6 separate regions of the Homo sapiens genome follow, and all the other regions are reported to be linked to region 4. Evidence: microRNA targets listed by miRTarBase, many of them from high-throughput screens and not tested one by one. Region 4 holds a microRNA gene; each other region holds the end of a gene's coding sequence.
What was found. The annotated mature microRNA hsa-miR-1908-5p reads CGGCGGGGACGGCGAUUGGUC and lies in region 4 at 2,004-2,024, shown strand. An mRNA with a match to its seed (bases 2 to 7 or 8) in the 3' UTR can be bound and repressed. Matches are read on the target gene's strand: a 7mer-m8 pairs with bases 2 to 8, a 7mer-A1 pairs with bases 2 to 7 and ends in A, and an 8mer does both.

Region 1 (5,102 bases), not on the chromosome of region 4:
CAAATTTAACTCACCTGCTTCCAGTGGCCCAACGCTTAATCTTCCATTCCCTACTTTGTTATACAGATTTACCTTCAGGCAAGCCCAGTTTTTGCCTTTGCTTACATTTCACACTTAGTTTTCAGCTCACTCCACTTCTTTTTTGAAATGTTTTTGGAATTTCCCTTATTTTCTTATAATCTAAGCTGTGTGTTAAAAATAAACTTATTGTAATTTATCTAAGATTTAATAGTATGGCATAAGAAAGGCTTTTTAGAGGCTGGGCTCAATGGCTCACGCCTGTAATCCCAGCACTATGGGAGGCCAAGGTGGGTGGATAATGAGGTCAGGAGTTCAAGACTAGCCTGGCCAACATGGTGAAACCCCGTCTCTACTAAAAATACAAAAATTAGCTGGGCATGGTGGTGCGGAGGTTGCAGTTAGCCAAGATCGCCCCACTGCACTCCAACCTGGGTGACAGAGCCAGACTCCGTCTTAAAAAAAAAAAAAAAAAAAAAAAAAAAAGAAAGGCTTTTTAGAGTATCTAGTTTATACTGCTAGATGCCGAAACCAAAAGTAATCTTTTAGAAATGTGAAATAGTTTATATCACTCTTCTGCTTAAGATCCTCCAGTGGCTTTTTCTCACACTTAAAATGTACAAACTATCCTGGCCTACAAAGCCCAGAGCTGGGTCCTAGCTTAGCCCACGTGGCTCCCCACTCTGCCACCTTGCCGTTCCTGGTCTGGCATGCCTTCTGCTTTTTTCACACGTGGCTTTTAAACGTTTGTTCAGGTCTCACTCTAAATGCCACCTTTTCATGGAGGCCTTACCTGACTCCTCTCTCCATTTCTCTGTCAATCACCCTGTTTTAATTCTCTTTAGGGCATCTATTATTAGCTGACATTTTCCAGTCTATTGTCTGTCTTCCCCTACTAGAACATAAGACCTATGAAAGGAAAGCAGGGTTTTGTGTGATTCACCACTATATTCTCAGAGTTTAGAACAGTTCTTGGCACATAGTAGGAACTCAATACATATTTCTTGAATCATTAGAGCTGAGCGTTGACTACTTATTCCCTTTAGACGGGACCTAGGCTCTTCAGTGCTCCACAGTTCCCACTACTTCCTTTTAAAAATTTATTTTATTTTATTTAAAAAATTATTGTTGTTTTTTTTTTTTATTTTCAGAGAAGGGATCTCACTATATTGCCTAGGCTGGTCACATACTCCTGGACTCAAGTGATCCATCTGCCTCAGCCTCCCAAAGTACTGGGATTAGAGGCCACTGTGCCAGGCCAGTTCCTACTACGCCCTATTATGTCCCCAGCTGAGCTTGCTTTGTGAATTTATTGGCCCTTGTACGCATTTGAATTTTCAATCCCTGCTTATAAATGTCACTCTAATTGTCTTCAGGATCTTCAGAGCAGAGACTTTTTTTTATGTTTCTTTTCTTCCTTCAGTGTCTTGCATATAGTAGGAGGGGAAGGAATGAACATTCACTGAATATCCCCTACCTGTCAAACACAACAACAGTATAGTTTAATTTATATCCTTACAACAATGCTATGGAGCTGAGTAATATTATTTATATCTATTTTACCAGTGAGGACACTGAGGCTTAGAGTTGTTCAGAGTCATATAGTAAACCAAGGATCAGGGATTGGAACCCACTCAGACAACATATACCCAGTATGAAGTGTTGTTGCTTCATATACCCAGTATGAAGGGTTGCTCATGTGCGAGGAATGGTTGGTTGTTTTCAATTTGCAAAGGGGAGATTGGGCAATTGGATATTGCAGGTCAAGTTTTACTTGAGTAGTCCAGCTATTTATTTAGTTATCAATTTCATTCCACTGAGTGTATGGAGAATTAGCTGGAGATATTCCTACATTTGGCCAGAAGAGGCTTTGGAGATGTTAACCATGCCTTCTACATGAGAGTCCTGCTGTTGACAGATATGGAATCCAACAGCAGGGAGATTTTCCGAGATAGTTACTTCAGTGGAACCATCAGCTGTCACCAGATCACTGGACAAAGACAGAAACTGAATGCACCAAATATGTACCACACCACCAAAAATTCTTTTAAGTAACAAAATCTTATTTTTATTTTTATTTTTTTACAGAAATTCAGGTATTCCAACAAATTTCTTTACATTTCTTGGACCTTAAAAAAATTACACACAACTTTTGGACGCAATACAACAGAACAGAATGAGAAAGGGAGTCACCTTTTTTGTTTTTTTTTTAAAAAGATAAAAACCTACTTCTTATATTTAATTAACAATTAGTGATTTACATGTGTATTACCTATATACAAATGGTACATCGTCAATGACCCATCTTCAGAGCACTGTGGTATGCTAAATTACACTTAGGTTTTATGGCAAAAACTTTTTTAAAACATTCACATGTGGATAGGAAGTACTTTCTTAGTTTTGTTCATACCACTGTTAGTGATGTAGGACTCCCGATGGAATTTGTAGTTTGCATGGATTAGAGAAAGCCAATACCCTTTGTTTTTATTGTAGATAAAGTAGACAGGTACCTCCCTTCAAATAAAATACGAATTCTTGAAAAGTTGTGTGTAATTAAATTTAGTAAGTAGGGTGTTATGGATGTAGTAGGGAGCTAATACTTAAAGCAACAAATAATCCTCAGAATGACTAATACTTTAGTTGTAGATACTAAGTATTCCCTTAATTTGGTTCTTTAGAAAAGCCACATCTCTGTGAATTGGGTTTTACTCCTTTGAGCATACCCATAATATGCTTTTAGCCATTTGAAACATAATGCCATTTATGGTGAAAAGATGGCCCGTACCAGAAACATTTGGCTAAAATAGGAATGTGGTCCTAACAGAGAGAGGGTAAGAGAAGTGAACCCTGATCTGTATCACTTCTTGTGTTATCCTCCATCTGATGTTCTAGTGATATACACTGATTTGTTCTGATTTTGAATACATGAATAAAAGCATTCTACATGTCCATGTTTTCTCCTTAGGTATAGAACATGGTTTGGCTTCCATTAAGTACCCTTGCATGTATTTTAGCTTGTGTTCATTCTCAGGCAATGGGCTATTTCAATATTAAATATTTGTTTGTTGTTGGATATTAGCAGGATATGTGGTGAGGGTGATGATGGGGGAAGCCTGGGAGCAAATGATTGTTGAAGTCCACTGGTTAGTTGTTAACTACTTCCAGATGTCAGCCAACTAAAATGAATCTGAGTATTTTTGAAACCAACATTAGTAAACAAAAAGGTAACTTATTCCTACCGAGTTTTTTTCAACCTGTATAAGTATACAGTCATTTATTTCTAAGGCTATTAAATTATTATTTATTTTGTTAGTACCACTTACTATTATTTAGAAATATGTTTAATGGAATGATTTTTAAAAAAATAAAAATGAGTGCCCATCAGTAAGGGAAATAGAAGACATGGATTTCTGATAACATGTATGGCAAAGAAATAGGAAAAAAGTAGGAGACATTTTAGATACTTATTTATAAAGTATATTAAATTCCTATGCATATACTAGGGAGAATTAGAAAAAAAGTGTTTATTTGATAGTAGCCTATAATATTACACGTGAGCTTCCAAGGTGAAAATGAACTTTTTCTATATTTTTCAGAGTTCCTTGATGCTGTTTCCTGAAAGATAGGGAAATCTATGTTGCTTGGGAACCTATGATGTAAAGATGTACTTCCTGTAATATACAGCTTGATGGAGTAATAGTATATGGCATAAACACTTTCTCAGTAATAACTTGTATGGACAGATTAAACAGAACACAGACTTGGTAAAAAGTTTGAAGCGTTACGTCTCTTAATAACTGAGTGGTTGTAACTAATTACACAGTGAAGTAAATGAATGGTAGAGATGAAGAACCAAAGGTCACGGCTCCTATGAAAACATTCAGAGGCATTTTCTAAGATGCTTCCTCAATAAATGACGCTTGATCAGCCTCTTGGCTATTGAGATAGGAATAATTTAGAACTAACTGCCTTTTTAAAAATTCTGTTGAAAGGTTAAAGCTTTTTGTTTTCAGTTTGATTTAAAAAGGACAGTTTACAAACCTCAGTACGTATATATTTTACATGTTAACTCTAGAGCATTTATATTCCTCTTCCTTATTTCCTGAATATGATTTTTCATGAACGTTTTCTGATCTCATCCAATGAGTTTCCAATGAGCTGGTGTTTAATCCATGATCACATCTCTTTCCAGAAAATCACTCCCATCTCTGCTGATCTAGATTTAGAAAGTGCGTTGACAAGTGAATGTTCCATTCTTGTTCATATTCATCTATATACTCTGATCTCTCTCAGGCGTATTCCTTCTTGATGTTGATGTACAAAAGCTGTTATTCGATTCGTTTAGCTGTTATTCGATTTGTTTAGCTGTTATTCGATTTGTTTTGTGCTCATTCTAGAGAATATTGGCTTAGCAGAACTGCAGAAATTGGAGGGAAGAGAGAGAAAAAGGGTGGGGGGAGAGAAAAAATACATCATTTTCTGTCTGCAAGATTTTTGTGCATAATATTTGTCACGGAAAAACTATACCAATGAATGGTTCAAATGCATTTTGCATTTGTTACCAAACAATACTGGAAAGTTTGAGATTTCTGTTCCATTCAACCCACAGTACAGTCTTCCCAGCAAGAAGAACATGAGTATTCCCTCCATCTGGGTCAAGATTAGAGGCTGCTTTGAAGGAGCAAGGAAAAATGTGGACTGTTCCCAAGTATCACTGACTTTTCTGCTTAGCATGGAAAAATGTGTCACTTGAGTGTTTTCCTTTTCTTTCCAAGTTTTATTTATTTGAACTCAACATTATAGCAGCTACAAAAGAAATTATTATAAAGATTAATGACCCACAATTTAATCACTTGGACACAACTGTTTTCTTCCTATATTTCTTTCCATTCCTTATCTAAATGGGAAATTATTTTATACAATTGTAATTACAGTATAGATGATACTTTAAACATTTAAACATTACATTAAAGACAATTTTCTAAATTTCCATTGTCCATATCAGCATAAGTTTCTTTTATTTATTTATTTACTTAATTTATAATATAGAGACAGGGTTTCACCATGTTGCCCAGGCTGATCTC
Region 2 (5,107 bases), not on the chromosome of region 4:
TGTTGCTTACTTGGATGATAAGGGAAGCATGCCTAGAGGTCCCCTAAGGAGATTGGTCAGGTTATAGACTGAGACCCAAGGACAGGATTTCGCATCCATGTTCATGGACAGGACAGCACCTAAGTCCCCCAGTGCCACCATATTTACAGCATTTTAGAGTCAGGAACAGAGGGCTAAGTAGACCAAGAGCATTGGCTGCCTTTCAGACATCCATCTATATTCTAAAGGGATTGAGTTATTTGGGGTTAGGGTACAGAGATGGGCAGGATATAAATAGATGTCGCCAACGTTTCTGGATCTCCAAGACCTGTATCAGAATCACCTGAGGCACCTGTTCAGCTTGCAGATTCTTGCCAATACTTTGCCCCACCCCAGGTGAGAATCTCTGGAATTGAGATTCCCAGGTGCATTTGGTGTACAGTGACAGTTTGAGAGTCACCGAAATGGGGAAGGAGAGACTGTTGACTGGTGTGAAAAGTGTTGCTGGGGCCCCTTCTGAGGGGCTTATCTTGCCATTTCTTCATGTCCTCTTGCAGGCGAGGTGTCCAGGCCCAACCCCTCAATGTAGGCTTCTGTGAGCAGGAGTTTGAACAGACCTGAGCCCCAGGCACCGAGGAGGGTGCTGGCTGTAGGTGAATGGTAGTGGAGCCAGGCTTCCACTGCATCCTGGCCAGGGGACGGAGCCCCTTGCCTTCGTGCCCCTTGCCTGCGTGCCCCTGTGCTTGGAGAGAAAGGGGCCGGTGCTGGCGCTCGCATTCAATAAAGAGTAATGTGGCATTTTTCTATAATAAACATGGATTACCTGTGTTTAAAAAAAAAAGTGTGAATGGCGTTAGGGTAAGGGCACAGCCAGGCTGGAGTCAGTGTCTGCCCCTGAGGTCTTTTAAGTTGAGGGCTGGGAATGAAACCTATAGCCTTTGTGCTGTTCTGCCTTGCCTGTGAGCTATGTCACTCCCCTCCCACTCCTGACCATATTCCAGACACCTGCCCTAATCCTCAGCCTGCTCACTTCACTTCTGCATTATATCTCCAAGGCGTTGGTATATGGAAAAAGATGTAGGGGCTTGGAGGTGTTCTGGACAGTGGGGAGGGCTCCAGACCCAACCTGGTCACAGAAGAGCCTCTCCCCCATGCATACTCATCCACCTCCCTCCCCTAGAGCTATTCTCCTTTGGGTTTCTTGCTGCTTCAATTTTATACAACCATTATTTAAATATTATTAAACACATATTGTTCTCTAGGCACTGTGGTAGTGGGTTTTTTTGTTGTTTTTGTTTTTGAGACTGTCTCAAAAACTCTGTCGCCCAGGCTGACAGTGCAGTGGCACAATCTTGGCTCACTGCAGCCTCTGCCTCCTGGGTTCAAGCGATTCTCGTGCATCAGCCTCCTGAGTAACTGGAATTAATAGGCACGTGCCACCATGTCCATCTAATTCATATATATATATTTTTTTTTTCTGAGACGGAGTCTCACTGTCACACAGGCTGGAGTGCAGTGGCACGATCTCGACTCACTGCAAGCTCCACCTCCTGGGTTCACGCCATTCTCCTGCCTCAGCCTCCCCAGTAGCTGGGACTACAGGCGCCCGCCACCACGCCCGGCTAATTTTTTGTATTTTTAGTAGAGATGGGGTTTCTCCGTGTTAGCCAGGATGGTCTCGATCTCCTGACCTCGTGATCCGCCCGCCTTGGCCTCCCAAAGTGCTGGGATTACAGGCGTGAGCCACCGCGCCCGGCCGAATTCATCTATTTTTAGTAGAGATGGGGTTTCACTATATTGGCCAGGCTGGTCTTGAACTCATGACCTCAGATGTTCACTTGTCTTGGCCTCCCAAAGTGCTGGGATTAGAGGCGTGAGCCACCGCACGCGGGCCTGTGGTAAATTGTTGAATTTGAAGGACTCAGAGGCCCTGGTCAATTCCAAAATAACGTAGGCGACTTCCATCCCCCTCCTCCCAACCATTTTCAGCCCAAAGCATCTTCGCAGGGAATGGATGGCTGCGCGGAGGTGGGCGGTGGCTCTGGAGAGGGTCTTTGCAGGTGTGATTTTCTCTAGAAGGAAATGTCTCGTCGTGGACCCAGACTGCCCCCTCCTGGTTTCAGATGCAGAAGTGATACTGTAAGCCAGAGGCGGGGGCAGTAATGCATCGCAGCCATTTTAGGTGAGGATTTCCTTGGCGGTTATTTGTTAAGTTCTTTGGCTGGGCCCTGGGCTGGGGTAACAATGGACAGGTTCCAGGCATTTTTTTCAGAAAGCTTCCAGTGTAGTGGATACAGAAACTTCAGGAAGGCAGGGCTGAGAAGGATCTGAGTAAAACTCGGTCCTTCAACACCATCCTTCAGCCCCTGGGTCATGTTCCTTCGAGGTCCTGGTGGGAGGTAGACAAGCCTAGCCTTGTGCTGTTCCTGTAAGGACAGGGTGGGCATTTTCTACCAACAGAATTCTTGGAATTTTCACACAGCCCAGCCTAGCCAAGTCCAGGGCTATAGCCCAGATACACAAGTTAAGGTCCCAGCACTGGCACCCACCACAGGAGCCCCCTTACCTCTATTACCCAGAAGCTTGTAGGAGGGGTGGTCCGCAGACAAGGACCCTGCACAGGTGCGACCCTGCTTCCCTCCTGGTCATAACTTTCATGTTACTATTGCTTGGGATAATGTTAAGTAAAAATAGCAGACACTGAGTTTTAAGTCTCAAGTGGATGAAGGCAGAGATCGTGATACACTTGAGTTAAAGCAGTAGGGTTCTGTCATTTTCTATTCCTGTTGTAAACATTTTCTTTAATGTTATTATTTTTACCACTAAACTAACGTGGCCTGGTCACGACTTTCATTGGTAAAGTGTGCTGTTCCTCACCCTCCACCGTTGCTCCTTTGGTCCACTGATCATAAGAGCATTTACCTGAAGGTCGTCAGACCTCGAATGCCAACAGGTCAACTGCAGTGGCCTGCAGTTACCACCCAGTCTGTTCCAATGAACAGAATCGCTGTTGCCCCAACTCATCTCCCTTCACCTAGGCTGTAAATTGAAAGTCCCACCCCTGAGCGGAACACAGGCCATCTTGTGTGCTGTGCACCACCAGGGGGTGGGGAAGTTTCCAGACTGACTTCCTGGCTCCAGTCATCCTAGGAAAAGAGTTCTCCAGTCGCTCCCCACCCCCACCCCTTCCCATTCCAGGAGTCTATTAAGGAGGCAAAGCAGGCCTAACGGGTATCAAAGCAAAGGAGTGAATGGAGACTGGGAGAGTCTTCAACCTCTCCTCTCCTTGGTAGGAGCTGAGGCTGCATGCCAGGTACCTTCCCTTCGAGGAATCTAATAAAGCTAGGTCACTGGTGTTTTCAGGTGCTTCTCAAAGGATTGCCGTAGGGGTAGGATATCAGGATGTGGGAGCACAGGTGCCACCACAGCACTAGTGATGGAGAGTCATTGCCCCTAGACTTCTGGGACAGTGAGACTGTGAGGAAAGCTGAAATGATACTGGGAAAGGGTGAAAGAAAGGATGTAGGTGGAATTTATTTAGTATTAATGTAGGTACACATACCTTATGGCAACATTCCTAGCACTCTAAATTCTAGATTTGTATAGTTTCTGTCAATATCTTTTGTAAGCTTAATCAATACAGGGCATGACAAGTATGTGTCACATACTTTTTTTTCCACGAAGAAAAAAAATAAGTAGGAATTGGGTGCTTTGTTTATCAAAATTTGTATTTCCTTTATAAATAAACTTTGAAATAAAGGTTGAAAATTAGTATCTTTTCTAGCCGAGCCACCATTGTTTTTAAAAATCCTCTTTGAAGCAGGTGTGTGTGTGTGTGTGTGTGTGTGTGTGTGTGACGTTTTTCAACAAAATTTTTAAAAATCGAAATGTCAGGGTCAGGTGCAGTGGCTCATGCCTCTAATTCCAGCACTTTGGGAGGCCGATGTGGGAGGATTGCCTGAGCTCAGGAGTTAAAGACCACCCTGGGCAACATGGTGAGACCTGATTTCTACTAAAAATTAAAAAGATTAGCTAAGAATGGTGGTGTGTGGTTGTAGTCCCAGCTACTCAGGAGGCTGAGAAAGAAGGATCACTTCAGCCTGGAAGATTGAGGCTGCAATGAGTCATGATCACACCACTGAACTCCAGCCTCAGCAACAGGGTGAGACCATGTTTCAAAAAAAAGAAAAAAATTTAAATGTCCAGGAACCTTGCTTTTTTCACAGTAATTACTGTACTCTAACCACACCCATGTTTAGTCTAAACTATCCCAGTAAATACTCCTATTTTTTAGTGATTTCAAATGTTTCAAACAACAGAAAAGTCTAGAAAATAGTAAACAGTGTAACCACCCAGCTTTGTTGCATCTCAGTAGTCATATTTGCTTCAGATTTGTTTTTTTTAAACAAAAAAGATGAAACATTATTAATATCCCCCTTCCCAATGCTATTCCCTTCTCCAAAAACAACTGTTTTCCAGAATTTCTTTTTAATCTTATTTCCTCTGGAGAATCTGATACTTAGCTGTGATTTTTTTCATCACTTAATAAATTCTTTATGGCTCACTCTTTATAGCAAATTAGAAAGAGATGTTTTGGAAGCCACTCAAAAAAGGGAGTGTGTGTGGGAAAGGAGGAAGAGCAGCTGGCAGGCAGACACAGATGGGAAGGGGTGCCATGCTCGCTGGTGTGCTGCAGAGTGTGTGAGTGAGAGCGTGTGTCTGAGTGTCTGGATGATCTATTATGAAAGAGGATATTTGAACATAGGAACTCAACTGCTGGTGTTTATCTAGACTCACATGAGTCAGAAATCTGAATGAAGATAGATGTGGAGATCCAGCTAGGAGAACAAAAGTGCTTCGTCATTTTTATGTGCTTGCTGTGTCAGGCACTTTTGTTGTTTTTTTTTTTTTTTTCTTTTCTTTTTGAGATGGAGTTTTGCTCTTGTCACCCAGGCTGGAATACAGTGGTGCAATCTGGGCTCACTGCAACCTCCACCTCCCGAGTTCAAGCAATTCTCCTGCCTCAGCCTCCCAAGTAGCTGGGACTACAGGCATGTGCCACCACACCCTGCTAATTTTTGTATTTTTAGTAGAGACGGGGTTTTACCATGTTGGCCAGGCTGGTCTC
Region 3 (5,000 bases), not on the chromosome of region 4:
CTACAGTCCTAGTCCTGTCATAGTTTCTTTTCCAGGTCCCAGGAACCGCTTGGGGTGATCTCACGTTATACATCGGGGCATGGCATGGGGATCAGATAGCTCTGACTGAGGAAACTCAGAAGGCTTCAGTGAGTGAGTGAGGTCAGAGCTGAAATTCTTGATAAATGCAAGCACTCTAGATTGGTCACAGGTCTTGGAAAAACCTGAGGTTCTTTGGGCAGCAGAGTTACGCGTTTGCAGGCTCTTGGTGACACAGGAGCAGTGGTGATGCCTCATCTGGTGCATTGCAGAATTGGAGGCCCATCCCTGCCAGACCTCCAGGCTGAGTTTGGCAGCATTAGTGCAGCGTCAGCCCCTTTCCTGGGCCTGGCTCCAGAGCCAGCAGGAGGCCCGACGTGCTGATGGATCATCTTCTCTCCTAGGCAAACCGGAGCTGAAGGGTTTTAACTTGAACCCCCTCAACCAGGATGAGCTTAAAGCTCTCAAGGTCATCTTGAAAGGATGAGACTCAAGAACCAAGATGGGGGACCAGCAACCCCCCAGGGTCATGGAGGACCCAGGACCCTCCAACCTTGACACCTGTAAGGACAGGATCTGCCCTGTAAGGGGCCAGCCGTCAGGAATCTGGCCATGAAAACCTCTTTGTAGTGCTTGGCTACTCTGTGATGGCAGGAGGGAACCTTCAGCCTGTCTGGCTGCTGGACCTGGACACCAGGGCTCGGTGGACACAAGATCTATTGACGGGCCTTGGTAGCCACCAGTGGGTGTGTGGGGCAGTGGCTGTGGGGGTGTAAGAATGACTGCAACAGGCACTTCCCAACAATGGCCTGCTGTTCACATGGACCCTGAGCAAGGAAGGAGGGAGGGAGGGGCAGAGTGGAGTGTCATTCCAGCATTCCTCTCAGAAGGGAGAGAGGTTTTCAGGCTGGTGCCATGCGATTGGAATAAAGCAGGAGGCTCATGGGTGGTTGCTGAATGAAGAACAGAATCTTGGTGCTTTGTGGCTCACCACAGCCATCTGTGGGGCAGGCACACACACCTCCCGCCAGCTCCAATTTTGCACTTTTTCCCTGCTTGATTCCAAGAGTAGGTGCTGCCTAGCAGCCCTTCGTGGCCACTCTTTACTCAGGAGGGCCTTGCAGAGTCCTGCACCAGGCCTGGGTGAGTGGATGCGCCTCTTACCATATGACACGTGTCAAGATGCCCTTCCGCCCCCTCTGAAAGTGGGGCCCGGCCAGCACTGCTCGTTACTGTCTGCCTTCAGTGGTCTGAGGTCCCAGTATGAACTGCCGTGAAGTCAAAACTCTTATGTGTTCATTAAGGGCTCAATAAATGTTAGCTGAATGAATGAATAGCAGCAACTAGTCTTTATTTGCCTCATCTAGTCCTTCAGTAAGGGCACGCCACTCCATTTAGAATACAACCTATGAACATGGTTCTTGCCTTGAAATAAACCTGTGATTTGACAGGCGGGTGATAACAAATGGCAGCATGGCAGGGGCACACCTCTCCTGGTCCCCCCGCTCCTTGGCTCTGGCTCATAGTTACATAGAAACACAGGCTGTCATGGCCAGTTCTTACGTGTTTTCAAGAGAAGCTAGACATATGGGTTGTGAAGTTGAATCTCCTTTTAAATATTTTTGACTAATGCAGAAACTTTTAAAACATGAGTGTGGGTCACAGGTGTTAGCTCCAGATAGTGCAATACCATACAACTATAATCAAGAATAAGGAACAAGCTCCAAGATACATCAAGTGAGGAAAGCAAGGGGAAGGCTGGTGTCTTATAAGCTAATAATTTTTGTGCAAGCACAGTGTGATTCCCTCAGAACAGCACCTGCAGGGTTGGGGCGCACAGGTGGGAGGGAAGGAGATGTCACCCTATACCCTTTTGTAAACTTTGGATTTTAAACCGTATGAATATATTGCTTATTTTAAAATGTAAATAAAGTAGGGAGTTGCAGAATTCACCTTGCTAGATGTTGTCCAGTGTGACTGCCTGATTCACAATTTCATCACTGGAAAATTGCCCCTTCCTCCCTGGCAGGGTGGGTGCTGGGCCAAAAAAAGCTAATCGCATTCCTTCTGGAAATAGGGAACCTGGAGTCCATGCCTGGACCTGTCTGGGTTGGTGTGCCTCAGGTACAGGGATGAGTGGGAGAAGTCCTCATGCTCTGAAGGCAGAAGGTCTAGAGTAGCCTGGCTTCTGGCTTTCCTAAAGTCGGCTGGTTCACTTCTTGGATTTGCCAGTATTTTCCTTCCAAAAGTCTTCCCTTCGGGCTTGACCTAGGCAGGCAGATTCAACCATTTGCAGCCAGAGAAACTACTCTGAAGCAGGCGGAGTGGTAGAGGGAGTAAGTCCCCCCTGGAACAGTTACCCCAACAGCCCCGAGTCTTGTTGCAACCCCTCTTAAACCAAGAGGAAGCTTAGCAATGTAAGATGTGAAAAGGCAGATTTTTACTCACACTCAACTCCCGAAGCTGTCCTGCCCATGAGCCCAGGGTTTTCCGGTTTCTGGCTCAGCTCCCAATCTCAAACACAAGGCCTAGAGAAGCACTTAAGTCACCCATCTGACTTAGATAAATGCACCTTTGCAGAGACCCTCACTAAGCTCTGCCTCCCTGGTCTGTCTTGTCCATCTGAGAAATGGGGATGCCCTGTCCCACTGGTTTTCAGATGATGGTCAGGGAGCCCCATGGGCTCCCCTGACATGCAAGGAGAAGAGGATGTGTTTAGGGCTCAGTACTTCCCCAGGCCCCCAATAAACACACAATCTAATAACTGCTTGCTGTGTAAGCACAGCTTAAAGACGAGTTCCTTAGCCTCCAAACTCTTGCTCCTGAAGGACCTTTTCAGCACTGACTTGGGAGGTATCCAAGTGTCAAAGCCAGGAGGACTTGGCTGCAGCCAACAGTATCCCCGGAACCAGGCCTGGTGCCCAGTGACTCCAAGTAGGGCCTGTGCTCATTTATTAGATATGATCTCCTGGGGGTAGCAGAACTTGCTGTATTTGTTCTCTTTGGGCCTAACTGCCAAGTCAGTTTGTCAAGGTTAAACCTCCCCCAGTCCCAGTGATTGGCTGTCTCCTGGTGCAAAGATGCCTGGGGATGGGCTGGAGGTATCCAAGGGGCCCAATTCAGGTAGTAAGCTGCAGCTGCTAAGCCAGCAAAGCTGGTGCCAGGCTGGAGGTGGGGAGGCGAATGCTGTGAGGTGCTGTGCTGGGATCTGGGAGTGGGGGGGAGGCCTGGGTGGCACCTGCTAAGGCTGATTTCCTCCTGGCAGCTGGGGATCAACTGGAAGCTTTCTTCTGAACTTGAAGGGAGCAGAAGAGCTGCCTCAGTTGTTTCTTCCGATCGTTGACGCAGCCTGGAAAGGAAGTGGGGTGTTGGCTGGGATGACCTATGCTTGGGAGGAGTGGAGGGGCCTGTGCCCCAACTCCCTGCTGGGAAGAGGGGACAGCGGGAGTCAGACAACCACACACAGCCTGTGGTTTATATCCTGGCTCCATTCCTAAACTGCCATGGCCCTCAAGCAGGTCAGTTACCCTTTTCAGCATCGGTCTTCTCATCTGTAAACCAGGATACTACTGCCCACCTTATGGAGTGAACATGAGGACTGGGGGCTTACCTCAAGCCAGGAACTGCTCCAGATGCTGAATGTGGATGGATTTGTTTGGCCCTCGCAGGAATGATGTGTAGAAGGGAAAACAGGCTCAGAGAGGTTAAATCATTTGAACCCAGACTACCTGGTGCCAGAGCCACACTCTTAACCACTACCCCACGCTGCTGCTTCTCCTGGCTTTGCTCAGTGAAAATGCATTTAAAGCTAGCACAGTGCCTGGCACCTCATAGCTGCCCAGTACTGTTAGCTTTCTTCCCTTACCCAACCCATGTGCCAGGCACAACTGGCTAAGAGATGAGTTTTCCGTACATGTGGCCCCCAATCCCAGGCAGTTCGTGCTGAGGCTGCCGTGAGCTGCTGAGACGTCTCTCCCAGGACGTTCATGGTGCTACATGTTGGCTGTTTGCTCTCAGAGCTGATCCTTGAGGTAACTATGGTCATTTAACCTCATGCCAGGCACATTGCTGGCACTCAAAAATGCTGCTTGAATGACTGAATCTCTGTGGCCACTAGTTCTGACCTGTGGGTGTCTGCCATCTTCCACATCCCCCCAAACCCTGTCCCTGCTTCCCAGACACTCACTCAGCCATTCACTGAGCTGAGAGCCTACGATGCACATCCTCAGGGTTTTCCAGAGTGAGTTCCATGCAGCCCTAACTTAAACTCTATTTGGCTCATTCCTAACTCTCGAGTCTTCTTGTCCAGTGCAAACTTCTTGGAGTTCTACACTCATCTCTGAGTTATCTGCTGACCCTTTCACCTGGATGTCCCTGAACGCTTCCCTAACTCAGTTCATCAGTACTCTTCCTACCCTAACCAGCTACCCTTGTGTTTACCACCATAAACCCAAACACTTGAAACAGGAATAATTCTAGAGACTTCTAAAGCACTGGCTCTCCCAGCCTGGTCAATATAGTGAGATTTTGTCTCTACAGGAAAAAAATCACACACACAAAAATAAAATTAGCCAGGTGTGGTGTGTGCCTGTAGGCCTAGCTACTCAGGAGGCTGAGGTAGGAGGACTGCTTGAGCCTGGGAGTTTGAGGTTAGTTACAGTGAGCTATGATTGCACCACTGCACTCCAGCCTGGGCAACAGAGCGAGACTCCGTCTCAAAAAAAAATAATAAAAAAAAAACAGTAGCTCTCAACTTGGGCTGCATATTGGAATCACCTGGGAGCTTTAAAAGCTACTGATGCCCACACCAACCATATCTTGATCTGGCAGGCGTCAGTAGTCTTTAAAGCTCCCAGGTGATTCCAATGGGCAGCCAAGATAGAGAACCGCCGCTTTCCATCTTTGCTACTCAAATGGGGGTCCAGGAAGTAGCGCATTGATATCTTTGGTGCACTGTTGGCAAAGAAGGCTGCAACAATGTT
Region 4 (5,107 bases):
CACGGAAAAACCTCAACCCCGGCCCCGCCCACCCTTCCTGCGGCCACCCCGCAGCCCTGGCCCCTCAGTCCATTCACTCCTGCAGCGCGGCCCCGCACCCAGGGCCTGCACTAGAACCGCTGTTCCTACCGCGGCGCCCCCTGGGAGCCAACGCCGCGATGCCCGCCTGACGTCAGGAAGTCGAATCCGGCGGCGACGCCTTTAGGGAGCCCGCGAGGGGGCGCGTGTTGGCAGCCCAGCTGTGAGTTGCCCAAGACCCACCGGGGGACGGGATCTCGCTCCCCGCGCCACGAGGCTCGGCCAATGGGAACGCGCGCTGCGAGGCCCGCCGGTCTGCCCTGCGGTGCTGAAAACCCGGCGCGCAGGCGGCTGGCTCTGGGCGCGCGCCAGCAAATCCACTCCTGGAGCCCGCGGACCCCGAGCACGCGCCTGACAGCCCCTGCTGGCCCGGCGCGCGGCGTCGCCAGGCCAGCTATGGCCCCCGACCCGGTGGCCGCCGAGACCGCGGCTCAGGGACCTACCCCGCGCTACTTCACCTGGGACGAGGTGGCCCAGCGCTCAGGGTGCGAGGAGCGGTGGCTAGTGATCGACCGTAAGGTGTACAACATCAGCGAGTTCACCCGCCGGCATCCAGGGGGCTCCCGGGTCATCAGCCACTACGCCGGGCAGGATGCCACGGTGAGCGCAGCCAGGCGGGGGCACAGGAGAGGGCGGGACCGGAGGCTGAGTGCAGGGGAGACAGAGTTACGCACTCCGAGCCAAACACCGACTAATTCGGAGGAAAGCCCGGAGGCGCCTGATCATACCTGTTGCCCGGTGATTGGGTGTCCTGCGGATGCGGGATGAAAAGGCGGGAGAGAGGCCTGGAGAAGTGGAGTCTGGGGAGTGGGGATGGAGGCCAACAACACGCACACACAAACAAAGGGTCCCGCCTCCCTGCCGTGCATTCCATCTGCAGCCCCGAGCCTCAGGTCTCTGGGCGGGGACAGAACCCCGAGCTGGGTAGGCTAGGAGGGAGGAGAGCAAGGATGCAGGCCGCCTGGGGAGGGAGGGGGTCAGTGGCCAGGGGAGGGAGTCACATCCTGTCTCGATGGCTAGGAGAGGCAGCGCAGCCGCGTCTGGACCTAGGTGCCGGTCTCCACTCGCCAGCAGGAGCGGAGAGGGAGCAGGAAAGGAGCCCATTCTCGAGGATGGGGCTGAAACGGGAAGCTTGGGGAGACCGCTGCCTTGGGGACCCCTGCGTCGTGTGAAGACTGGAGGACGCGGAAGGGACAGCGCTGGCCGGGGAGGGCAAGCGGCCGCTGGCGTACATAAGGGATTGGGAATGGCATACACTTAGCGAGGACCCCCAGAGCTGTTCTCGAATCGCCGGGGAGGCCACTGAGCCGCAGGCCAGCGAGGTCTTCAGCTATTCCGCGGAGCGGACCGCTGTTTACGCTCTGGGGCGGTAGGCCCTTCGCGGGGTCCTGTCCCTTCTTCCCTTGGTCTCACTGCGGGGTCGGCGCGCGCCCCAGCCCCAGGCCTGCTGCTTCCCTTTCTAGACCACAGCCCTCAGAGCTAAGGCCCCGGCGCCTCTCTGCTGGGTTGGAGTCCTGGGGACTCAGTCCTAGGGACTCGAAAGTCGGGGCGTTCCCTTCACCGCGTTTCCCCCTTGGCGGCCAGAATGGCGTCCCCTCCCCTTGCATCCCCCTCTGATCCCGTGCCCTGCAGCGTGATGCCCTCCACTGTCCCTATCCACTACCCTGGCGTCCCAGAGTGTGCCGCGGGTCACCAGGTTCCCATAACGTCGCAGCAGAGCTTAGACGCTGCGGGGCGAAGACCCGCCCCACCCTCTGACGCGACCAGCCTAGTGGGCGAGGCCAGAGCTTGCGCGGGTCAACCAGAGTGACCACTCGGGAGCCCTGACTGCGGCCAAGGGCGCAGGCGTGTCCCGGCGCATGCGCAGACGAAACAGGCACCAACGCTGGAGCTTCCCGCAGTGTGATTTGGGGCCGGGAATGCCGCGGCGGGGACGGCGATTGGTCCGTATGTGTGGTGCCACCGGCCGCCGGCTCCGCCCCGGCCCCCGCCCCACACGCCGCATCACTTACAGGGCCCGGGGCTGCCGGACCTGCCAACGTGAATCTTATCGCCATGGACCTTACCTTGCACAACCCAAAGTAGCTGCCTTGGGGCAGGGGGTGGCCAGAGTGCTTAGGGAAATGTGGAGCCCTACCCAGAACAACGGTGGAGGGAAAGGGAAGAAACGCAGAAGTGCCCCAGTTCGGACGTAGGGAAGTCTTCCTCTTCGTGGTTTTTGGAGAACCCTAGCTAAGAGAGGAAAGGGACTTATTGAAAGACCCGCAAGAAGGGACGGAAGTCTCATAGCCCTGAGAGGTGAAGCCAGCTGGAGTTGATGGGTCGAATGGGGACCTAGAGAACTTTTCTGTATCTAGAGGTTTGTAAAATGCACCAATCAGTGCTCTGTAAAAACGCACCAATTGGCGCTCTGTAGCTAGCTAGAGGTTTGTAAAATGAGCCAATCAGCAGGACGTGGGCAGGGACAACTAAGACAATAAAAGCTGGCCACCCCAGCCAGCTGCTGCAACCCGCTCCAGTTCCCTTACAGGCTGTGGAAGCATTGTTCTTTTGCTCGTCACACTAAACCTTGCTGCTGCTCATTCTTTGGGTCTGCAAAGAGTGTTATTCCTTTAAGAGCTATAACAGCGGGAAGGTCCACGGCTCCATTCTTGAAGTCAGTGAGACCATACCCGCCGGAAGGAACCAACGCCCGACACAGCCCCACCCATCTCTCCTGTTTCTCACCTATACTGAAATTCTTGGGCAAAAGCTGTCTGTGGACACACCCAGGGGAAAGGCCAGCCCAGGCAGGTGTTTCTTAGTGGTTCCCCTCAGCCAATGCTTCCCATTCCTTGATGCATCCTTCTAACTAGAGCAGATACTCGGTGATCTTAAACTGTGGACACCTGGGAGCACCCTCAAAAGGCAGCTGGGCCTAGGGAGATGGCCTGTGCTTCTGTGTCAGGAGTTGGTTCCTTCAGGTGGGCTCGTGGTCTCGCTGACGTCAAGAATGAAGCCATGAACCTTCGCGGTGAGTGTTACAGCTCTTACAGGTGGCGTGGACCCAAAGAGTGAGCAGCAGCAAGATTTATTGTGAAGAGCAAAGAACAAAGCTTCCACAGCGTGGAAGGGTACCCGAGCAGGTTGCCGCTGCTGGACGTTGGGGGGTGTGAGGGGGAGCAGCCTTTTTTTTTTTTTTTTTTTTTGAGACGGAGTCTCCCTGTCGCCCAGGCTGGAGTGCAGTGGCGCGATCTCGGCTCACTGCAGGCTCCGCCCTCCCCCGGGGTTCACGCCATTCTCCTGCCTCAGCCTCCCGAGTAGCTGGGACTACAGGCGCCCGCTACCTCGCCCGGCTAATTTTTTGTATTTTTAGTAGAGACGGGGTTTCACTGTGTTAGCCAGGATGGTCTCGATCTCCTGACCTCGTGATCCACCCGCCTTGGCCTCCCAAAGTGCTGGGATTACAGGCGTGAGCCACCGCGCCCGGCCGGGAGCAGCTTTTATTCCCTTATTTGTCCCTGCCCATGTCCTGCTGATTTGTCCATTTTATAGAGCACTGATTGGTCCATTTTACAGGGTGCTGATTGGTCCATTTTACCTCTAGCTAGCTAAAGAGCACGGATTGGTGCATTTTACAAACCTCTAGCTACAGAAAAGTTCTCCAAGTCTGCACTCGACCCAGGAAGTCCATCTGGCTTCACCTCTCACTTCAACTTGGGTACAGCCTTCTGGCGGGCAGGAGGATGGCCTTTGGTGCGAACACTGCCGGAGTCCAGGGGGCTGGCTCCCTCACCTTTCATCTTCTCCCGGCACTTGCAGGATCCCTTTGTGGCCTTCCACATCAACAAGGGCCTTGTGAAGAAGTATATGAACTCTCTCCTGATTGGAGAACTGTCTCCAGAGCAGCCCAGCTTTGAGCCCACCAAGAATGTAAGACCCTGTGTTTGCTATGTCGCAACTATTGGTTGTTGAGGGGGACAGAGAGGGGGTGGAAGGAGAGTCTAGATGGGATCACAGTCATAGTAATCACAGTCAGTAGTAGCTCTGGGGAGTCTTGAGGTCCCTGCTTCTCTTGCATAGTCATGAGGTCACAGGCCCAAGGGAGCATGGCTTTGCAACCTATGGCTCCCCCAAGGCTGCCACTACCATGGCTGCCATCATTGTTATCATCATTGTTATCATATGAGCACTTACTATGCACCAAGCATAAACTCATAACTCTTACACATTTACAGATGAGATAACAGGCTCAGGGAGGTTAAGCAACACAGCCAAGGATCACACAGTTAGTAAATGGCAGAGCAAGGACTTAGTCCCCTGAACTCTTAGGCACTATCCCATGGCACCTCCTCCTGTCATCCTCATTGTCGTGGTATCTTTGCCTAGGACTGTGGACTTCCCACAGCTACCTCAGTGGGAGGTCCTTGAGCCTGAGAGGGCCCTTGTCTCCAGTAGCATTGGGGTGCAGATGAGAAGAATAACAGCTCCTCTTCCTCTTCTGCAGAAAGAGCTGACAGATGAGTTCCGGGAGCTGCGGGCCACAGTGGAGCGGATGGGGCTCATGAAGGCCAACCATGTCTTCTTCCTGCTGTACCTGCTGCACATCTTGCTGCTGGATGGTGCAGCCTGGCTCACCCTTTGGGTCTTTGGGACGTCCTTTTTGCCCTTCCTCCTCTGTGCGGTGCTGCTCAGTGCAGTTCAGGTGAGAGCCTTTGGCTTGTCAAGTGCACAGCAATGCTCAGCATCCCTGGGGAAAGCTCCTTGGGTGTTTGAGGAAGGCCAAGAGTGCCTGCCCTCCAAGCAGGGCAGATCTGAAGGTATGCAGGAGTGAGTGCAGGAACATGCATTCTGCTGTCTTGACCTGTCTGCTCTTTAGCCACATGGACATCTTCATTTCTCTCACTGCCTTTTTAGCTGCTTCTCCAAGGGTTCTCTTCTTCCTATGCGGTTTGTTCTCTGCCACAGCCCACCTGTGCCAGGAGCCAAGTTTCTGGTTTCTTAGCAAAGCTTGGCTCCCTCCCCACCACTGACATTGCCCAATATGTTA
Region 5 (5,107 bases), not on the chromosome of region 4:
CCATGCCTCCCCCGAAGCGGCGGGAGTCGGTGCAGCCTCAACTTCTACTGCGTGTCCCAGGTCGCCAACCAGCTTTGCTCGCGTGCCGTTGGCCCGGAGGCTGCCGCGCCAGTCTCTGCGTGCGCCTGAGCGCGCTGGAGCATTTGCGAGGCCAGGGCTGCCGACGGCGAGAGGATACTTTGAGGAACACGGTGCTTCAGTCCCGCCCCCGCTCTCCGCCCGAGCTGGAGGTTGGGGCGCGCTGAGCCGCAGCGCCTGGACAAGTGCGCGGGCCGGAGCCGCCCAGGCCTGCACCCGGGGGCTCGCGGCCGACGCATGCGCACGCGCGGTGGCGGGTCTGCAGGCCCGAAGGCCCGGCCCCTCCCTCAAACCCGGAGCGGGGAAGCCCAGGGGCTGAGAGCCTCGGCCCGGGTCGCAGGAGCTGGGGAGCGGGGACGCGGGCAGGCTAGGTCTTCCCACCTGCCGTCGGGGCTCCTCCCCGCAGCAGCAAAGGGGTCCCAGTGCCCGTGGCAGTGCATGCCCCAGCGGACACGCTGGCTCCCAAATTCAGAGATCAGAGGGGCGGCTGAGAACGGGGCGTCCGCTGTGTGTGACCCCTGACCGTGGAGGAAGGGCGGGAGCCGGGAGTAGGCGGTGGGGCCCGGGGTCAGGCCGCGGTCGTCGGCTCCCGGCAAAGGCGCTCTGGCCGGGGAAGGGGGCGAGGGTGGGCGGCCGGCCTCTGCCGTCGTAGTCATACCTGGGACGTTGAAATGGGCTTTGGGGATAGAGCTCACTCCCAGCGCGCCCCACAGGAGAAGCCCGCAGCTCAGGCCTGGGCCGTGCAGACCGCTGGGCGGGCTCGGGGCCCGAGGAGAGCAACACGGCGCGAGGTCCAGTCGCGAGTAATAACCCCGACAGCACGGCCCCTCGAAGACGTGTTCCGGGCACCGGGGTTGTGAGCGGGGGAGCCTCGGGCCTTGGGCCCGCTTGGCACGGGGCGGGGGCGCCTCCTCCAACTCCTGGAGATCAGGCCCAGACCCCGGGTGTTCTCAGGGGACACACTGTGGACGGTGGACCAGTTCCTAGCGCCGTTTTGTCCCCCATTGCCCCTGCTGCTTGTTAAAAGTATTAGCGACCCCCGTGATGGCAATCCACAATTTTTGGAGGGTGCGGGTGGCATGTACGGACGTGAAGGTCTCTTTGTGAGGCACGTCCACGCACACACAGGGACACTCATTTTGTAAAACCTAGATGGGCGCTGCCACCACCCCTCCATGCCACCCGCGTACCAATCAAGGATGCAGGTTGTAGAAAACACCTGGACGTGTGTGGGCTGCACCTTAAAACAGAATTCACCCAGTAGGCACTCCCAAATCCAAATAAAGTGCGTAGGGTGCTTTGAGACTTGGGGGGAGGGGTGTTAAAAAGTTACTTGTAAACAATACATTTAAGGTTATTTTCAAGTGAATGTTTAAAGTGCTGCCTGCTCCAAGCTCTAATAACACATTAGTGCGATAATAACACTCCTTGCATCTGCCAGGAGCCCTCCAACTGGCTGCCAGAGGTTCCACGAGGTTCGCGGTGGTTGGTGTAGGCGAAGGCTACTAAAAGGGGCGAAAAAGAACCCAAAGCCATGCCTGTGGGGTTTGCCAGCGCCGACCCGCTCCTCGCCAGCGCCCGCGGCCAAGCGGACCCGGCCTTCCGAAGGAGCCATCTTGCGCGCAGCAGCAGCAGCGGCTGAGCCTGAGCCCCTAAACAGCTGCAGAGGTGTGACAGGTTTATTATGCTGGGCCTAGCTCGCTCGCAATTCCTTAAAGACAAAGGGCAGCAGAGAGAGCCCGCGACGGGGCCTGGCCTACCCGGGTTCCACGCACCTCCTGCACAAACTCGGGCAAGATTGCTTTGCCATGGTATGTGAGTTTAACTGAAGGTTTAACTTTCTCAGTTTTTCCTTAAAAATATCAAGGTGGAAGATGTTTTGTAACATTTGAAACCAACAGCCAAAGTCTGGCAGAGCAGGAAAAAATAAGTTTACTGAAATTTAATTGAGATTTAAGATAGAAGAAACCCTGTAATAAGAATTGTCTTGAAGGATGTCCAAATGAATTTCTCTCATAGCACAGAAATAGATAAAAAATGCCGAAGTAAATCGATTCTCCTTTTCTCCTTTTAAACCACATACACCAGGAAGCCAAATGAACTCCCGCTCCTTCCATTACTCAGGGTGCAGGAGCAGTGAGAAGGTTGCAACCAAAAATACTTTTTAGTTTCCTTCAAACATGGATGCTGCCATCCGTTTGGAGAAGTAGAATTCAACATCATGGCTCAACTGGAGCTGCATAAACCCCTGCCTAGAATCTCTCCTGATTCTAGGTGTCCAAACAAGCAACACTGAATTAAACAGGGCCATGGCAAGCCTGAGGGCCCCTGGAATAGTCTCTCCTGGGTGTGGGAAGGGAGGTTCCGGTGGTCAGAGGAGAGGGGGTGCCTGCCCATCAGGGTCAAGGCTAAGAGGAATGTGACTCTTTGTGAGATTTGTTGGAGGATGTGTGTGACAGTGGGTTTGGGAGTTGGGTTTGCAAGTGTTTGTGAGAATGTGTGACTGTGAGATGGCATGTTTGTGGAGTGTATGTGCACTTGTGAATGGATGTGCATGGATGTTTGTGTTCGAGCCAATGTGTGAGTATGTATCTGTGTGTGTGCCCACTATCCCGCCCAGGCTGAGGCCCGGCCTCCCAGCAACCATGTGTTTCCAATTAGCAGCATCCCGCCTGGGAGTGCAGAGAAGGCGAGTCCTGGGACAGCTTCTGAGGAGCGGGTGGGCTAGCTCAGGCCCCCCAGTTCTGCTCCATCGAGGGCGAGGCCGCCCGGCCAGCAAGCTTTCACAGCAACTGGGCAGCCACACAAAGAGCCCTCTCTCCTGCGCCAGTCGTTGGAGACTCGGTCCTCCCCCAGATCATAAACCTGCCTGTGAAGACGTTCAGAAATAGTTTACCCGCACTCACACACACATGTGCAAAGGCTGGAATTCCATTTGCTATAAAGTTTTATTTTATTTTGCTTGGAAGGGGAGTGAGGGGGAGAAGTGTCCTGACCTAATTTGTTCTAGGGCAAAATACTGTATTTCATGTGGAGGTATACACCTGTACATGAATCCTTGCTTGCTGCCTGTGGGTGTCCTGCACATGTGTGCGTCAGCCTACCTGTAGCTGTACACCATACACAGCTCAGGAGCACACACCTGTGGTCTTACCCAGGCCACCTAAATGATGCATGCAAACAAACCAGATCCAGAGATCTGAGGCTGAGCCTTAAACCTTTTTATTATAGCTTCAAATTAACGCTGATGTCGTTCAAGTGCATAGCACAATGTCTGGCATGTATTAGGCACTTAACATAAATGGCTGAATGAATACATTAAACTGAGATTTAAAAAGTGACCTAGTAGTCATAAGAAGAGGCTGCAAATAAGCACTGTGTAAAAGATTCTAGACCACAAGGAAAGGCACAGGCTCAGAGACCTCTAGGTAACTTGGTGGCTTTGCCATGGAATGTTCCAACAGTATTTGCTTACCTTCAAGTTTCTTCTTCTGACCCCCCTCTATTTCTCAAGACTTCTTTTTCAGATGGGTGAGAGCCCTTGGGTTCTAATTATAGTCAGCAGAGACCAGCCAGGGTGTGAATTCCTCCCTTCTGCAGGAACTAGGTTTCCAGAGTGACTTGTCACCAGGAGGGGGAAAGAAATGTCCCAGGCAAAGACTAAGGAGGAGGCTCGCCGGAGCACCCCCGCCCCCCTTAGCCTTGCAGGAGTCCTCCCACCAAGGGCTTTCTCAAAACAGGGCAAGGCCTGACCACAGCGATCTCATTCCAAGGCCTGGATTGTGGGGTTGTTTGGGGACCCCTATAGCCGTGTTCATAACTTGGGAGAAAACATCCACACTGACCCTGTGAATGCTAGTTCACAGAAAGACCATTTTTAATATGAAAAGAGAAAAACAATTTGAAGGCCCCACAATTTGTTGTGTAACAACATAATTTCAAGTAAAGTGAATGTGATTAAAACATCTTGATTTCACAAAGCCATTCAGAGGAGGCTTCGACAAACGCAAAGCGACCCAAACCCTGGAGGGTCACATCCCGGCTGCTACAAACCTCGGCGGGGCGGCCCCGCTCTTGCGGCCGGGACAGCGCAGCGGCAGCAGGGGCCGCAGGGGACCCGCAGATTGGCACGCCGCTCCCCATCCCCGCAGCGCGTCTGCACCGGAGACTCTGCGGGGATTGTAGCCGGAGGGCGGGCCGGGCTCCGAGGCGCTGCTCAGGCATTGGGGTTTGTCCTCATGAGCTCCACGTCGGCGTGCACCATCTCCCTCACCAGCTCCTGCAACACAGGGGTGGGCGTGAGGGAGGAGCTTCTGCCACTCTCTCCTGGTGACACCCCACCCCGGGTGTCGGCCCCAGAGAGGCCTCCGCGTCCCTCGTTCCAGCTCCCCTCACTTCTCCCGCACCCCGCCTTCCGGGCTTTGGGCATCGCAGGCGCCTCAGGCGCCCGACCCTGAGAGCTGCCGCCCTGCAGCCCGGGGCCCCGCAGCGGGCGGCGTGCGCCCTAAGAGATACTCACATCGAAAGCGACCCGGGGCTTCCAGTTCAGCTTCTGTTTCGCTTTGGTGCAGTCGCCCTGCAGAAAGTCCTAGGGAAGAAGAGGGGGAGACGAAGCAGGCGTGGGTCGTGGGGGTGGGGGCAGCAGGTCCCGAGCCCCGGGAACTCCCACCGTTCCGCTCCCTCTGGGCGCACAAGGCTCCGGGTTTCCCTGCTTTCGGTCCCTGCTGTGCGCGTTCAGTTGCGGCTCTCGGCGCCGTAAATCACTAGGTCGCGGTTAAGAATGTGCTGTGCGGACCCGTGAGGACCGTGACCGCGATCCACCCCCAGCTACCTCCACACCTCTTCTCCCCAAGGCGTCCCTTGGGCTCTTAATGCTTTTTTTTTTTTTTTTTTTTTTTTTTTATAACATGAAGTTGTCAGGGACGCTCCTATGAGAACTGTTTGGAATTGCTGCACTTCTCTGGCTAGGAGGGAAGTGAGTAAATCACCAGGCGCCCCTCCCAGCTGCCCGTGTCCCTGCGCCGCTCAG
Region 6 (5,000 bases), not on the chromosome of region 4:
CCTGTTCTTCTTGTATTACCTATTTCAATGATCGCCCAATCTTCCTCCCACTCAGCTGCAAATTCTAGGTCTTTAAATCTCTCTCATTCTCCATTTTTAAATAATTCCCGTGATTCTCTGTTCCCAGAATGTTCTCTGTTCCCTACTGTAATGCCCTGTTTAGGTCTCTCAGTAACTTTCTACTATACTATTAAAACAGGCCTCTAACTGGTCACCCCGCGTTTAAAATTCCTCTTTCCAATACATCCTTTATGCAGCCATTCAAGTTATCTTTCCAAAACAAAGAAATGCTTATGTCACTTCTACTCAAAGTTCAGTGCCTCGGAAAAATTGTCATAGCCCTAAAGGTAAACCCCTTCGTTTACAGAAAAACTCCCCAGAGCTAGAGATTCAGCAACTTGCCAAAAATTAGACATCTACTTAGATGCAAAACGTAAAAAACTAGAACTTAAAACTTCTGACTGCTACTTTAGTTGTCTTTTACTCTGCACCACACTAAGAAAAAACCAAGTGCAATTTCTCACTCCCTAACAAAATGCCCGACTTTATTTCCAAATGTTTTTTATTTATTGCAAATATGCTGCGTTGACCTTCGTTCCAACCTAAGTACTAATTCTTAAGTCCCAAGTTAATAATATTTAACTTCCAAATGGTGCCTAAATGCATTTCTGAGCCTCATGATCAAGTGGGATAAACTTTAATAAATTGGATTATCTTGAGAAACTTCAGAAAATAAATTCGACACGAAATGTATGAAGGCCGTAAACAATCCACACACTCCTGCCCCCCGAACTGACAGGCAAAGGAGAAACGGGCGACCCAGCCCAGCCGAGTAGGCAGCTGTCCCTTTTCCAAACCCAGAAAGTAAGTGGTATGAAAGGAGAGGGTAGCTCTGGACTGAAACATTCAGGGCAAGGCCTCCTGGCATCCTCTACCCCACACCACAAAGGCCTCAGAAATAAGGCCCCAAGGTCCGTAGGCAGGCCCCGGCTGCGGGTGCAGTCCAAGAGCCCCCGCCCCGGGGACTCGCTGACTCTGGCTTTCTCAGGACAGTCTGTTCCTATATCCCTACCCCCAAAACCAAGCAAAGGAGCAAGAACATCGCCCCTAAAAACCCGCGAGGGGAAGGGCCAAAGCCGCAGGGCTTCAGACTGGCCGCTCCCGGGCCCGCCAGATCCAGGAGGGATGCCCAAGGAGGGCGGTTTCCTCTCTCGGGGCGAACTCGGCCCCAGGCCCCAAGTAGCCGGTACTGGCCCCCGCCCTCTCGGGTACTACCTAACCGAGGAGGGGTGGCCAGGCCCACCTCGGAGCTCACCTTCCAGTTCCGGGAAGCCGGCCGGCCGTCAGTCGGTCCCGAATTCCGTCCACACACAGCGTCTTCCGGCTCCCGCCGGAAGCAGCTCGAGCGCGGGACAGGAAGTTTGGCTGACCCCCCACGCACACACCCACTCGCTCGCCTCAGTGTCGTGTGGCTGCCGCACTGCTCGGGACCCAGACGTCAAGGGTGCTGGCGGGGCCTCCCCAGGCCCGCGACGCAGGGCTCCGCCCCGGACAGGAGGAGCCGCAGCCGCCCCGCTCCCACTCACTCACTCACTCTCGGCCTTCGGGACTCCTATGTCCGCGAAGCCCGAAAAAACAGGTCAGCTAATTCGTTGACGTCACTGCCACCCCGCAGTAGCGGAGGGAGTAGTTTTTCCCATCAGCGGAGGCGTTGCAATGGAGGCAAACGCGAAAGAAAAGATCACTGCTTAAACATTTATCAAAGGTCTCCATGGAGAGGACCTTCGAAGTTTCACCGCCCGAGAAAGGAACTTGCAGAATCAAGTTTTGCATTATATACGGGACGGGGTATGCAGTGAGTCTGGGTTCCGTGTTGTAATTAGGATGTAAAGAGCTCTTGGATGTCCCGACTGCGGGCTTGAACACTTGACTTCCAAGCTGGATGCCACCTTGTTAAAGCTTTGTGAGTTTGACTGACTTCTTGAAATTACTTATTTTAAAATATTTGCGTGCGGAAGAATGAGAGACTCAACCGTGGGAATTAAAGGAGTTCTCTTTAAAAAGGCATTTTCAAGGTTAAAGATAAGCCTTGATGACAGGTTTGGGTACACAAATTACTAATGGTGATTTAAAATAAAGGAGAAACATTTCAGAGGAAGATAATTCCACTTTAGAAAAGCAGAGTAGGCCGGACTCCGTGGCTCACGCCTTTAATCCCAGCACTTTGGGAGGCTAAGGTGGGCGGATCACGAGGTCAGGAGATCGAGACCATCCTGGGTAACGCCGTGAAAACCCGTCTCTACTAAAAACACAAAAATTAGCCGGGCGTGGTGGCACGCGCCTGTAATCCTAGCTACTCGGGAGGCTGAGGCAGGAGAATCGCTTGAACCCGGGAGGCGGAGGTTGCAGTGAGCCGAGATCGTGCCGCTGCACGCCGGGCGACTGAGCAAGACTCCATCTCAAAAAAGAAAAGAAAAGAAAAAAGCAGAGTATAAGATGCAATCCAGAGTTGAGGATATTTACTTGGAGGTAAAGGTCCAGTGCTCAAGAAAGAGGTCAGAAATACAGATGGAGATTTGGGAGTTAGCAACATACAGAGAAAAGTGAAACCCCCTCAGGCGATGAAATGGTCCAGGAAAAGTAACAAAAAAGGGCCACTCACGAAAACTGGGGAGGCTGATTACCAACACAGTTTGAATCTACTTATTACAAATGTTGCATACAAAAGTATATTGGCAGTGTGTAGACAATCATAAGCCAAAACATTCAGAAACAATAATCTTCAGTTTTACTGTTCTGCGAGGGTTGAGTACAATTAATAAAACAAACTTTTGAGGTACATCAGTAGTTCCTGAACATTCATGTTTACAAACATTTGTTAATTTGCCCAGTCCTGTCATTTTCTGAAACTGTCTTTGTTGTCAATCTGTTTTTGTTTTTTGAGATGGAATTTCACTCTTGTCGCCCAGGCTGGAGTGCAATGGTGCAAGCTCAGCTCACGGCAACCTCCCCCTCCCAGGTTCAAATGATTCTCCAGCCTCAGCCTCCTGAGTAGCTGGGATTACAGGCGTGTGCCACCACGCCCAGCTAATTTTTGTATTTTTAGAGAGATGGGGTTTCACCGTGTTGGCCAGGCTGGTCTTGAACTCCTGACCTCAAGTGATCTGCCCGCCTCTGCCTCCCAAAGTGCTAGGATTACAGGCTTGAGACATCAGGCCCGGCTGTCAATCTTTTTAATCACCTACAAGTGATGTTTACATCTGTTTGCCCTCTCAATCTTTACAACTTGACAGTATGTGCCTGCTAACCTAAAATAAACATATGCTTTTCTCAATATATATGGAGTTTTTAGGCTATACAGTAAATTATTTGGCAAATACAAAGAGATGATCCTCTGGAGTAAATCTTGTCAACTTAACCAACCTAAGTTATTTATCTTCCCATACTAATCCCAACCCAAAACCGCTGGTCTCCTATCCCAAAAACTGTTACACAAGCTCCGAAACCCCCAATCCTGCCCCCAGTCCCTATGTACACATCATACCATTAAGTCTCTTTTCAGTCTACAATGTGAAAAAAAGGCCATCTCAATTCTATTTTTACACCAAGTTTCAGTTTAAGAATCATGTAAAACATTTCCAGTTCAACAAATCTTTACTCAGTGCCTCTCAAGCATTCTATTTTATTTTAAGCATTCTATTTTAAATTAATAAAAGTTATTAATATTAATTTTAAAAAACCTATTGTGTATGATTCATTAATGGTTGTATCAGATCATGTAAAACGTTTCCAGTTTAACAAATCTTTACAAAGTGCCTCTCAAGCGTTCTATTTTAAATTAATAAAAGTAATTACTAAAAGTTATTAATTTTTAAAAACCTATTGTGTATGATCCATTAATGATTGTATCAAATACCCTATGCAACTAAAAATAACACCTATGATCACATTTAAATCAAGAGCTATGTATAGTCTAAGGATTTTTTAACATATCTTTGAAAATATGCAAAATGGAAAAGAAATCTATGATTGCCTTGATGACATTTACAGCAATTACAAAGAGATTTCTTCTGAAATGCAAACTATCTGCTTTCCAATGTTACCTCCTGTCATCATGGACTGGAATGCAGCTGGAAAAAGAGAAAGTAGGTTATCTGAAAAGATAAATGTCACTATCATACTTGTTTCCAAAAGGTACAACATATAAAATTATGTTAAATAACTTTTTCAATGATTTTGAATATTAAGCATAGAAGAAAATGGTCATGAAAAGAAATCTCAAGTAAAAAGTTACACACAAACTAACCCAATTAACATCTTAAAAAAATGTTTTGCCCATACTGGAAAGATTTAATTGGTATCTAACTGGTATGCACATCAATGTTCATTGTTTACAGTATCTGAAGACTAGAGGCAAAAAAAAATGGGAATAAAATGTGAGTGAAGGCCGGGCATGGGGCCTCACGACTGTAATCCCAGCACTTTGGGAGGCCAAGGTGGGTGGATCACTTGAAGTCAGGAGTTTAAGACCAGCCTGACCAACATGGTGAAACCCCATCTCTACTAAAAATACAAAAATCAGCTGGGAGTGGTGGTGTGTGCCTGTAGTCCCAGCTACTCGGGGGGCTAAGGTGGGAGCATCACCTGAACCTGGGAGGTAGAGGCTGCAGTGAGCCATGATCGCACCACTGCACTCCAGCCCGGGTGACAGAGCATGGCCCTGTCTCAAAAATTAAAAAAAGGGCTAGGCACTCACACCTGTAAATTCCAGCACTTTGGGAGGCTGAGGCAGAAGGATCATTTGAGGCCAGGAGTTGCCTGGACAATATAGTGAGACCCTGTTTCTATGGAAAATTAAAAAAAAAAAAAAGGTTGGGCATAGTGGCAGGTAATTGTAGTACCAGCTACTCTGGTGAGAGGATTGCTTGAGCCCATGGGTTCATAAGTTACAGTTAGCTATGATCATGCCACTGCACTCCAGCCTGGGCAACAGAGCAAGA

Region 1: miRTarBase lists LHFPL3 as a target of hsa-miR-1908-5p. The part of its 3' UTR that is shown has no 7-base or 8-base seed match.
Region 2: the mRNA of HEXA is a reported target of hsa-miR-1908-5p. Seed matches in the 3' UTR shown: 7mer-A1 at 1,585-1,591.
Region 3: miRTarBase lists PDRG1 as a target of hsa-miR-1908-5p. Seed matches in the 3' UTR shown: 7mer-A1 at 1,042-1,048.
Region 5: the mRNA of GMDS is a reported target of hsa-miR-1908-5p. Seed matches in the 3' UTR shown: 7mer-m8 at 4,135-4,141.
Region 6: miRTarBase lists PTGR2 as a target of hsa-miR-1908-5p. The part of its 3' UTR that is shown has no 7-base or 8-base seed match.

The regions. Positions count from the first base shown.
Region 1 is chr7:104,905,520-104,910,621 of GRCh38, reverse strand. It overlaps LHFPL3 (LHFPL tetraspan subfamily member 3), which reads right to left. Exons shown (of 3, transcript NM_199000.3): 3 at 2,061-4,435. The coding sequence ends at 4,407. All of the region lies in intron 3 of LHFPL3-AS2 (LHFPL3 antisense RNA 2), which reads left to right. Among named protein-coding and RNA genes, the nearest start is that of LHFPL3-AS2, 19 kb to the left of the region's middle. RefSeq lists a silencer at 287-443.
Region 2 is chr15:72,339,570-72,344,676 of GRCh38, reverse strand. It overlaps HEXA (hexosaminidase subunit alpha), which reads left to right. Exons shown (of 14, transcript NM_000520.6): 14 at 537-3,753. The coding sequence ends at 600. Among named protein-coding and RNA genes, the nearest start is that of CELF6, 22 kb to the right of the region's middle. RefSeq lists an enhancer at 1,820-2,319.
Region 3 is chr20:31,941,312-31,946,311 of GRCh38, reverse strand. PDRG1 (p53 and DNA damage regulated 1) reads left to right here. Exons shown (of 5, transcript NM_030815.3): 5 at 423-1,975. The coding sequence ends at 505. TTLL9 (tubulin tyrosine ligase like 9) reads right to left here. Exons shown (of 15, transcript NM_001008409.5): 15 at 1,312-3,367. The coding sequence ends at 3,291. Among named protein-coding and RNA genes, the nearest start is that of PDRG1, 8.2 kb to the left of the region's middle.
Region 4 is chr11:61,812,126-61,817,232 of GRCh38, reverse strand. It overlaps MIR1908 (microRNA 1908), which reads left to right and starts at 1,993; the gene lies at 1,993-2,072. It overlaps FADS1 (fatty acid desaturase 1), which reads left to right and starts at 230. Exons shown (of 12, transcript NM_013402.7): 1 at 230-678; 2 at 3,880-3,990; 3 at 4,565-4,762. The coding sequence starts at 304. It also overlaps a transcript of FADS2 not described here. RefSeq lists silencers at 309-508, 2,029-2,148 and an enhancer at 1,029-1,926.
Region 5 is chr6:1,619,875-1,624,981 of GRCh38, forward strand. It overlaps GMDS (GDP-mannose 4,6-dehydratase), which reads right to left. Exons shown (of 11, transcript NM_001500.4): 10 at 4,598-4,666; 11 at 3,932-4,357. The coding sequence ends at 4,295. Among named protein-coding and RNA genes, the nearest start is that of FOXC1, 13 kb to the left of the region's middle. RefSeq lists an enhancer at 4,614-4,723.
Region 6 is chr14:73,883,231-73,888,230 of GRCh38, reverse strand. It overlaps PTGR2 (prostaglandin reductase 2), which reads right to left. Exons shown (of 10, transcript NM_001146154.2): 10 at 2,505-4,130. The coding sequence ends at 4,054. It overlaps ZNF410 (zinc finger protein 410), which reads right to left and starts at 1,372. Exons shown (of 12, transcript NM_021188.3): 1 at 1,316-1,372. RefSeq lists enhancers at 1,313-1,382, 3,014-3,123 and a silencer at 1,433-1,712.